4 separate regions of the Homo sapiens genome follow, and all the other regions are linked to region 1. Evidence: fine-mapped expression QTL. A gene starts in region 1. Each other region holds a variant in brackets. All regions are shown on one strand. Distances are from middle to middle.

The links.
Region 2: its variant is fine-mapped to the expression of ZNF117 in whole blood (INTERVAL, PIP 0.96).
Region 3: its variant is fine-mapped to the expression of ZNF117 in lymphoblastoid cells (CAP, PIP 0.95).
Region 4: its variant is fine-mapped to the expression of ZNF117 in sun-exposed skin (GTEx, PIP 0.98).

What each region holds. Positions count from the first base shown.
Region 1 is chr7:64,989,660-64,992,368 of GRCh38, forward strand. ZNF117 (zinc finger protein 117) reads right to left here and starts at 1,377. Exons shown (of 4, transcript NM_015852.5): 1 at 288-1,377. All of the region lies in intron 1 of ERV3-1-ZNF117 (ERV3-1-ZNF117 readthrough), which reads right to left. ERV3-1 (endogenous retrovirus group 3 member 1, envelope) reads right to left here. Exons shown (of 2, transcript NM_001007253.4): 2 at 697-2,709. The coding sequence ends at 1,553.
Region 2 is chr7:64,892,971-64,895,679 of GRCh38, forward strand. It overlaps a transcript of ZNF273 not described here. Among named protein-coding and RNA genes, the nearest start is that of ZNF273, 8.9 kb to the right of the region's middle. The variant A/G (reference allele first, on the strand shown) is at 1,270.
Region 3 is chr7:65,188,848-65,191,556 of GRCh38, forward strand. It overlaps the pseudogene INTS4P1. Among named protein-coding and RNA genes, the nearest start is that of SNORA15B-1, 120 kb to the left of the region's middle. The variant G/A (reference allele first, on the strand shown) is at 1,091.
Region 4 is chr7:65,048,889-65,051,520 of GRCh38, forward strand. It overlaps the pseudogene CCT6P3. Among named protein-coding and RNA genes, the nearest start is that of SNORA22C, 16 kb to the right of the region's middle. The variant G/C (reference allele first, on the strand shown) is at 1,397.

The DNA.
Region 1 (2,709 bases):
CAACTGAATAAACAGACAACCTACAGACTAGAAGAAAATATTTGCAAACTATGCTTCTGACAAAGGTCTAAAATCTAGCATCCATAAGAAACTTAAACAAATTTATTTTAAAAAAAAAGAAGAAGAAGAATAAGCCAGGATCTGTGGCTCATGCTTGTAATCCCAGCACTTTGGGAAGCTGAGGCAGATGGATCATGAGGTCAAGAGATCCAGACCATCCTGGCCAACATGGTGAAACCCCATCTCTAATAAAAATACAAAAATTAGCTGGGTTTTGTGTCACGCACCTGTGATCCCAGCTACTCAGGAGACTGAAGCAGAAGAATCATCTGAACCTGGGAGGTGGAGGTTGCAGTGAGTCGAGATCATGCCACTGCACTCCATCCTGGTGACACAGCAAGACTCCATCTCAGAAAACAACAACAACAACAAAAAGAAAACCAAAAACCTAATTAAAAAGTAAGCAAAAACATGAACAGATACTTTTCAAAAGAAGACATACATGTGGCTGACAAGCATATGAAAACAAAATTCACGTTGTTAATTATTAGAAAAATGCAGAGAAAAACCACAGTGAGATACCATCTCATCCAGTCAGAATGCCTATTGTTAAAAAGTCAATGACAGATGCGGGCTAGGTTGCAGAGAAAAAGGAATGCTTATATGTTGTGGGAATCAGGAGGCCGGAGAGATCACTGGGTGCAACAGGAAGGTTTTATTTAGGTGGCCACTGGCCCAGCGGATTAACATCCAAAGGCTGAGCCCTGAACAAAGACAGGGCTTGACTTTTATACATGCATCAGGCAGGGGCAAGTCGGGTTTTTGGCGCAAAACCTGCGAGGTGAGAAAGCAGTCTTACAGAAGCAGAACAAAGGCAGTTAATCATACCGTGACAGGTTTTACAACAGGATTTGCAACATGAGCCTACCTTACTTAAACATGTCTTGTGACCTTGCCATGCTACAGAAAGAAAAACAAGAACTTACAAAATCTTTACAGACTTGCAGAAATAGTTACAAAAATAGTTGTGAGAGCAGAACAAAGAATAATGTTATGGGGAGAGAATTTCAAACAGGGAAACTGATAAGGAGAACTTGTTTTTCTCATCCCTGCTCCTGGAGCCCACTCCTTCGGAGCCCCTGCCTGGCCTTGCAGATAATTATCATAGCTCCAGCAGGACTTTGGAGTGAGTCAGACTGGTCAGGAAAGGACTTGTTTTCCCTTTACTTGTTTTTCCTTTTATATTTCCTGCTTCATTCCCCCCTTTGATGCTTTTTATAAGTAAAGTTTAAGAGAAAGCATCACTATCTTCATTTACTTCAAGAGGAAGTAGCTCTTTTCTTGGCAGGGGTTAATACTTAGTTAGGGCCATTAGTCGTGTGGTAGTCCGTCTGTCCACAAGAGCCTCTATGGCTGTTTGGATATTTTTGACAATGAGGGGTAAGAGACAAGGGAGTATAAGGCAAACTCCCAATATGGCTAGGACTATTTGTACTAAGGTTTTAAATCCTCCAAGGGATGAGAACCAACCTCTGAAAAGGGAATCTGGAGACTATCCTTTCCAAGTCTGAACTGGGATGTGAGCTAACTTTTGGATTTTAGCAGTTATTTCTTTGATGACCTTTCCTTCGTCATCAAGTTCCAGGCAGCAGTTAGTAAGGTTGAACTTTCCGCATACTCCCTCTTCCTGGGCTAGGAGGTAGTCTAAGGCCAGTCTATTTTGATAAATGACATTTCTCATTTTTGTGGCTTGCTGGGCAAGCAGATTCAAGGCCCCTGCAGTTTCATTGGTAATGATTTCTAGTACTGCCTGCAATCTTATAATGCGGTTAAGCATGTAAACTGGGGTGCGGTATCCCCACATTCCATCTTCTGCCCAGGTGGCTGGGCCATAATATTGAATTATTCTTTCAGGAGGCCATTCATTGTCCTTCCAATCTCCTATAGTTATGCCTCTTTTGCTTTTCCTTTTAGTTTCATCATAGATGGGGTATCCTAAGGCTTCTCCCTGTTTTAGGGGCATTAGGAAGAAGGACGGCCTAATTGTCCCCAGTACACAGGCCCCTGACCATTTAGCTGGCAGTTGTCGATATGCTTGTGGCCCACAGATCCAGTAGAGGCCAGAGGGTGCCTGCCAGGTATTTGGAGCTTCAAGTTGGTACCAAGAATGGTTTAAAGATGGGAAACGAGAGAATGGGCTTGGGTGTGGTGATTCAGAATTATTGCTTTTGCCCCTCCATAAAGTCTTTCCTAGTGTCTCGTTGTAATATTGTTGTCCTAGGCAAGTTAACTCTCCTACTGGGTCTGTAAAGGCCTTTCCCCAGCGAGCAATACAGAATTTTCCAATAATGGAGGTTTTTAAGAACCAGATGCTCTGACTTGATGGTGCAGGTTCGAGGGAAGAGGCGGTTAGTGTGAAATTATCTTGGGGCATTAGTTCCCTTGCTTCCCATGGCCATTGGTCTCCCATGTTCATTCCCCCACAGACATAACATGAAGCAACGTGCAGGCTGCTGGCTATGTTTTCAGCCAGTTGGGCGAATAAATTACTGGCCAAGGGAGGGGGCTCAGGCAATTTCTGGTTAACATGCTCATAGAATGACTCAAAAACTCGGAACTGTTGGGTTGAGCGGGTCCGAGTTTTCTTTATGATATATAGATAGACATAGGCTCCTGGGCCAATTTCTTCACCGCTGACTCGTGCCCCTA
Region 2 (2,709 bases), 97 kb before region 1:
ATGGAGCCTCTGTGTTGGACATGCCTGGCCCACAGGTAGCCCTTTTCTATTGGCACAGCTGCCGGCATTCACCCTTCCAAGCTTCCAGCTTGCTTATCTATGTTTGCAGCTCCATTTTTCAGGCTGATCTTTGTTAGTAAAGAAAAAAAAAAATTTGTCTTCCTTTTGCTAAAGGGAAGCTCTGCCAAGTACTCTTTTATGCTCACTGTCTGTCAAATATTTTTTTTCTACTTTCTGTATCATTAAGACTCATCATCACTCAGAGACAACCAAACACTGTGACATTTTGATATAACCCTTTCCAAAAGTGTATATTTTTCACAGTTTTGAGCACGCATTGCATACCATTTTTTCACTGAACACAATCTATCATGAACATCTTTCCATAACTTAAAAGAAGCTGCATGCCAGAACAGTCCATCATGTTCTGTTTTCTTTCAGAAATCTTTAGAGATGGATCATTTTCCTTACAAGAATAGATACCAGGTAAGAGAAGCAGCCTTTAAAGCAGCGAATAGCAGCTCATGCATGCTAATTATTTGCTTACTTCTCTGGCTCCCCTATTGATGGCATCTTGAGGGCCGGTATGAACATGTCATGCAGTCTCCAAGCAACCCACAGTAGGCCCACCATAAACAGATGTTGTGGCCAGCATGGGAGGTGCAATGGTGAGTTGCTCTGTTTCCTCCCTCCCGTCCCCCTCCCCACCCCTCCCCTCCCCCTCCCCTCCCCCTCCCCTCCCTTCCCCTTCCCTTCCCTTCCTCTCTCACAAAACAGTCACAGAGAGAGGACAGCAGCGTACATGGTGAGGTGCTGACGATTCTGGTCCACTGGATCCCACCATCCCTAGGACAGTAAATACCGTCCTAGTCACTACCCAGCAAGTTACCACCGCATCATTTCCTGCATGTTCCAAAATGAATAAAGGTAATTAAGCATAAGTGCAAATAAAAAGTCATTTCTCATGTTTTTAATCTAAACTGTCACAGTTTAGTTTACTATTTTAAGTTCTTTTCGTGCTAAAACATTTGTTTTTATTTATTTATTTATTTGAGACATAGCCTTGCTCTGTCGCCCAGGCTGGAGTGCAGTGGTGCAATCTGGGCTCACTGCAACCTCCGTCTCCCGGGTTCAATTAATTCTCCTGCCTCAGCCTCTAGAGTAGCTGAAACTACAGGCGCGTGCCACTACACCTGGCTACTTTTTGTATTTTTAGAAGAAACAGGGTTTCACCGTGTTTGCCAGGCTGGTCTCACACTTCTGACCTCA[A/G]GTGGTGCACCAGCCTCGGCCTCCCAATGTGCCGGGATTACGGGCATGAGCCTCCATGTCCGGCCAATCATTTGTTTTTTTAAAGTGGCAGCCATAGGTCCTGTCCGTCTGGATATATTTTGAACTTTTGTATGTTAAATATAACACTAAAAAACTTTATTATGTTTTAGGTAATCTAAGATTGGTGTATACAAACAAACTTTACAGATTACTGTAGGGTTCAGGAAATGATGTATATAATATGACATTTATATCTCTAGTTTCTTATGTATAAATCTTCCTTTAGAAAAGATTGGCTTTTTAAAAAATGTCTCCACAAATTTAGGCTTATTTTATAAAATGTCACAACAGTAAAAAAAAAAAAATACTTTTTACCTTTCTAAAAAAGTAAAATACTCTTTTGCCATTTCATAAAATAAACCTGAATTTGTCATACTATATAAATACTGGTACTCAAATAAAATACCAACTATTTTAATCAAAATTATTTAGACAGTCTATTTATATAATTTTATGATTTTTAACTACAGTGATGGGCATTCACAAATCTTTCATAAATCAAACATATTAGTATTAGGTTTTACTTAGTAGTTATATACGAAAGATCGGGCCGGGCACGGTGGCTCATGCTCGTAATCCCAGCACTTTGGGAGGCCGAGGCAGATGGATCACGAGGTCAGGAGTTCAAGACCAGCCTGGCCAACATAGTGAAACCCCGTCTCTACTAAAAATACAAAAAAAAAAAAAATTAGCTGGGCATGGCAGCGTGTACCTGTAATCTCAGCTACTCAGGAGGCTGAGGCAGGAGAATCACTTGAACCCAGGAGGCAGAGGTTGCAGTGAGCCCTAATCGTGCCGCTGCACTCCAGCCTGGGTGGCAGAGCGAGACTCCATCTCAAGAAAAAAAAAATTTGAAGATCTTTTCAAAATGGAGATTTTTAATTAATAATTTGGTGCTTTCAAATACACTGAAGTCTTGTGTTAATCACAGTAAGTCTGGGGATAGTGAATTAATTTTATTTTTTTATGATGTGTTCAAAAATTTTTAGTTTAACCTAATATTGATTGATGATGAGTAAACAAATTGATTTTTTTCAAATTTCATAGGTCTATTAAATTGTCAAAGATATTTTTAATTAAAAAATTCTGTCTTTCAATATTGTTTCAGGGATTTAGATCTAGTTGAATCTGCTCAACCTGTTAATCAGTGTCATGTGCCAGATTCCGATTCACTAACAGTGTGCCTGTATGACTTTTCTTTCCATAGTCTTTGAATGAAATTTTTATTACTTATTTGTATGTTATATAGTACAGCTCATACATTTCAAACGAAACCACAGGGTAAAATGAGTTCTGGCTTAGTATAAAAAAGCTGTTGGCAACTCAGTATTACATATACAGATGGATGTGGCTCAACAAGAATTTAGACAAAAATATTGA
Region 3 (2,709 bases), 200 kb after region 1:
ATCTCCTAGCCTTTTTTCCCCTTTGTTTTGTTTAGCTCACATTTTTAATGTGCTTTTATGTGTTTGTGTGTGTGTTACCAAAAGCTGAGCCACCAAACTTAATGACTCTATAATCCCACTGTGTTTGCTTAGTTGCCAGGTAGAAAACTGGTGTCATCAGCTGTTTCTCCCAGCATCATACCTCAAGAGGATCCTTCGCAGCAGCTCCTGCAGCAGAGCCTTGAAGGAGTGTGTAGTCTTCAGCACTTGGACCCTCAGGGAGCCCAGGAGCTGCTGGAATTCACCATCAGGTAGGGTAATCATCCCTTCATCTGACAGAGTTAGTGCCGTTACACTCAGCTTGACTGTTCTGAATTCTGGTGTTGGTTACTAGGCTTGATATTCTGACTCTATTGGTCTACATTCACACACGGTTTTATGGTCTGTTTATATTTGGATTAGATTGTGGTTTGAACATATTTTTTAAAAGAGCTCTTTATATTCATGACTCGATTGATGATTAGTACACAACAGAAATAGTTACAAAGAACCTGTTTTTAGTTTTTTAATTTTATATATTAGGATGAGTGACCAAAATGCAAAGTAACAGTGGCTAAAACAGGAGCAAAGTTTAATTCTTCCTCATAGGCAGGACAGGGCTGAGATGACCATCAAGGATCTAGGCTTGCTCATTCTTTTTTTTTTTTTTTTGAGACAGGGTCTCACCCTGTCACCCAGGCTGGAGTGCAGTGGCATAATATCAGCTCACTGCAACTGCAGCCTCCTGGGCTCAAGTGATTCTCCCACTTCAGCCTCCCAAGTAGCTGGGACCACAGGCATATGCCACCACACCCGGCTAATTTTGGCTTTTTTTTTTTTTTTGTAGAGTTGAGGTTTCACCATGGTGGCCAGGCCAGTCTCAAACTCCTGAGCTCAAGTGATCCTCCCGCCTCGGCCTCCCAAAGTGCTGGAATTACAGGCGTGAGCCACTGTGCCCGGCCTAGGCTCATTCTTTCTTGTGTCTTCATCTTCTGCATCAAGCAGCTCTGCTTAACAATTCAGAATCTAACTGTCCCCCCTGTATTCCATCCTGTGGGGAAAAGGAAACGGG[G/A]AGAGAAAGGTATCATCTCCACCCTGTGGTTTGTTTAAAGACACTTCCCAAAAGTTGTACACTCTAATTTTACTTGCATTCCATTGACTAGAACTTAAGTCACATGGCCATCTCTCACTTCAAGGAGCGAGGACATGCAGTCTTTATTCTGGGTGACTAATGCCTGGTTTACATGCGATGACTCTAATACTCAGGAAGAATGGGAGAAAGATATTGGGGAACAACCAAAAGGCTCTGCCAGACCTTCCTCAAAATGGCCTGAATGATATGAAAAGAATTTAAACTCATTTGCTTTTAGCAAAAGCAGTATTGTTTGCTCTTAAAAGATTAAAAAATCATGTATTTTAAGAGCAAACAGTACTGCTTTTGCTAAAAGCAAATGAGTTTAAATTCTTTATTGTTTGCTCTTAAAAGAGAAAAATATTATATCGGCCAGGTGCAGTGGCTCATGCCTGTAATCCCAGCACTTTGGGAGACCGAGGCGGGAGGATCACTTGAGGCTAGGAGTTCAAGACCAGCCCCACTGAGTGAAACCCCGTCTCTACTAAAAATAGTAGCCTGTAATCCCAGCTACTTGGGAGATTGAGGCACAAGAATCGCTTGAACTCGGGAGGCGGAGCTTGCAGTGAGCCAAGATCACGCCACTGTACTCCAGTCTGGGCAACAGAGTGAGACTCCATCTCAAAACAAAAAAGAAAGAAAGAAAAATATTATATTATATCATTTGTATCTTGGTTGAGATCTCTTTTGATCTGCCCGGAAGAGTATTTGGCACCAGCCACATTCAACTAATAATTTTTAGTGGATGATTTCATTCCATACACTAAGAAACAAGCTCTGTGCTAGATACAGATCAGCTAGCTAGGATTCTGCCCTTAGAGAGCCCATGTAGACAAGATGGATATAGACAAAGACTTATGATGGTGGATAACAGCGCTTTGTACTTTGTTCATGCTTTCCTGTCCATTATTGCATCTTAACATGTTATAAAGCTGGCCAACTGAACCATCCTCCAAGTTATGTTTTCCCATTACATTAGGTCATTCATTCACTTAGCAGCATTAACTATTTGTTTATTCTAATAAGCCAGTTGCTGAGGGTAGAGAGAAATAAGAAATGACATTTGTTCTTAAGGTACTCACTGTTTATTACAGGACGCAGAAATCATCAATTTGATAAATGATACAGTGAAGAGAAGCATAGATGCTGTGGAAAAACAGATGAAAGGCCCTGACCCATCACAGTAGTAGTGGTGAGGGATGCTTCACAAAGGAGAAGATCCTTTAGCTAGTATGAAATGATAACTGAGCATGTCAGTTTCGTAGTCCATATGCAGAAGAGAATTCCAACTTCAGCAGACATTAGAAGAGCTGGGAGACCTGAGGGAGAACAGCCTCCCAGAACTGCAGTGGTGTAGTATAGAGATTGAGTGAATGGAGCTTTGAAGGCAGACTCATTTTGGTTAACGTCTGAGCTAATACAGTCATGCACTAAATAACAACGTTGTGGTGGTCCCATGATTATATTTTTACTGTACCTTTTTTATGTTTAGATATACAGATATTTACCATTGTTTACCATATTTACCAATATTTACCATTGTAACCAGTGTTACAGTT
Region 4 (2,632 bases), 59 kb after region 1:
ATTTTTTACCAAAATGTTTACGACTACCAAGTATTCATTCCTTAACACTATTACATAATTAATTTAGAAATGTTTTACTTTTAAAACTTCTGGATAGGTGTAATTAAATTCTTAGATAGCGTTAATGTACTATTTAAAAAACACACACAAAACATTATCATTTGTAAAACATGCTTTATCATCTATTCATCTTTGTGAATCCGGTTTTTCTTGATACCATGCCATCAAAACAAATTTGACATAAGACTGCCCAATCATCCATAATTTAAAGTTGGTGTTTGTCAGAAGAATTTTATTGTTCTCATTATACATGTTATACATTTGAGCTTTTTTTTTTTTTTTTTTTTTTTTTTGGAGATGCAGTCTCACTCTGTCACCCAGGCTGGAATGCATGCAGTGGTGCCATCTCGGCTCAATGCAACCTCCACCTCCCAGCTTCAAGTGATTTTCCTGCTTCAGCCTCCTGAGTAGCTGGAACTACAGGCACGTGCCACCATGCCTGGCTTTTTTTTGTGTGTATGTTTTTACTAGAGATGGGGTTTCACCATGTTGGTCAGGCTCGTCTCGAACTCCTGACCTCAAATGATCCACCCCCCGCCTTGGCCTCCCAAAGTGCTGGAATTACCGGCATGAGCCACCACACCCGGCCACGTTTGAGCTTTGAAATACATTGATAGAATAAAATACTGCTTTATTCTTTTTTTGTTTGTTTTTTGAGATGGAGTTTCACTCTTTAACCCAGGCTGGAGTGCAGTGGCAGGATCTCAGCTCACTGCAACCTCTGCCTTCCAGCTTCAAGTGATTCTCCTGCCTCAGGCTCCCGAGTAGCTGGGATTACAGGCACCTGCCACCAAACCCTGCTAATTTTTGTATTTTTAGTAGAGATGGGGTTTCACCATGTTGGCCAGGCTGGTGTCGACCTCCTGACCTCGTAATCTGCCCTCCTCAGCCTCCCAAAGTGCTGGGATTACAGGTGCAAGCCACCACACCCAGCCTAATCTGTTTCTTATGTTATAGATGCACATAAAATTTCATTTAGAAAAATGTTCTTGTACTACAATATTTAAAGCTATTGAATTATGATTCATAAGTTTTATTTTGTAGTTAGCATCTCTAGGGGAATTTCAGGGACACTGTTGGCTGTCTTGTGATTACCGATCCTTTTAAAAACTCGTTGTATTTGAGAAGTAAAATAGTAGAATATATATGACAAAATCGGGAATTAAAGTAGACAGTATACTCAATTCCACTGTGTTTAAAGAGTTTGATTAATTTCTATACATTGTGCCAGTGGTTAAGATCTGGGACTCTAGAGTCAACCTGAGTTGAAATCTTGGCTCTGTCACTTGATCTCTTGTCTCAGCTTCTTCCTCCATAAAATGAGGGTAGTAATAGC[G/C]TTAACTCATAGGATTATTGTGAATATGAAGTGTACCAGTACATGTAAATAGTCCTGGTGTCTGGCATAAAGGTACTCATAAAACATAGTTACTATTATTTTAGAACATGGTTTAGATCTTCCTGTATGTTTAATTTGTCTTTTCCTCACTTAACATATCACGGCAGGGCACGGTGGCCATAATCCCAGCACTTTGGGAGGCTGAGGCAGGTGGATCATCTGAGGTCAGGAGTTTGAGACCAGCCTGGCCAACGTGGTGAAACCCCATCTCTACAGCCTGGCCAACGTGGTGAAACCCCATCTCTACTAAAAATACAAAAATTAGCTGGGCATGGTAATGCACACTGATGGTCCCAGCTACTTGGGAGGCTGAGGCAGGAGAATTGCTTGAACTGGGGAGGCAGAAGTTGCAGTGAGCCGAGATCATGCCATTGTACTTCAGCCTGGGCGACAGAGTGAGACTGTCTCAAAAAAAAAGAAAATATTACCACTATTTTCCCATGTTGTTAAAAATTCCACCAGTAATGGAAGAGAATATTGGGTGCCCTGTGCCCTTGCCAAATTGGGCATTCTCATTTTTTAGATATTTGCCAATATGATTTATGAAAATTGTCATGTTATTGTTTTGATTTGCATTTTCCCCAAGCATCAGCAAGATTTAATGGTTTCACATTTAAAAAATTTATTTTTTAATTTATAATCACCTTGTTTGATAATGAGGTTTTCATGTTTTTATTAACTGTGTTTCTTCTCCTGCCTGGATAAATTTTAGAATTTTTCACATCGATTTAGACGAATGCTAGTACAAAGGTTTTTTTAAGTCTATGATAATTTTAATGATTTTTCTTGGTAATTTTTGTCTGTAGATTCAAGTTCAGACAGGCACTTCCCATTCTGATATTGTGTAAATATATGTAATTTGTTAGTTCTGAAAAACATGACTTCTTTAACCTCCTAGAATGTAGTTTACTGGGTGTTACATGAATCTACAACATAATTTTTGTACAGACAAAAATTTTGCATTTCTTCTGGATATTGCCTGTTCATACCTTTGCCCATTTTTTCCCTTTCTGGGTTGTTTATCTTTTCTTCTTATTGCTTTATAGGAGTTCTTTAGATGTCACAATGGTTAATCTTTTGTTATATGTGTTACACATTTTCTCTTCATTTGTTATTTGTCTTTTAATTTTGTGTTATGGTGTCTTTACATAGAAGTGTTAACTTAGGTGGTCAGAT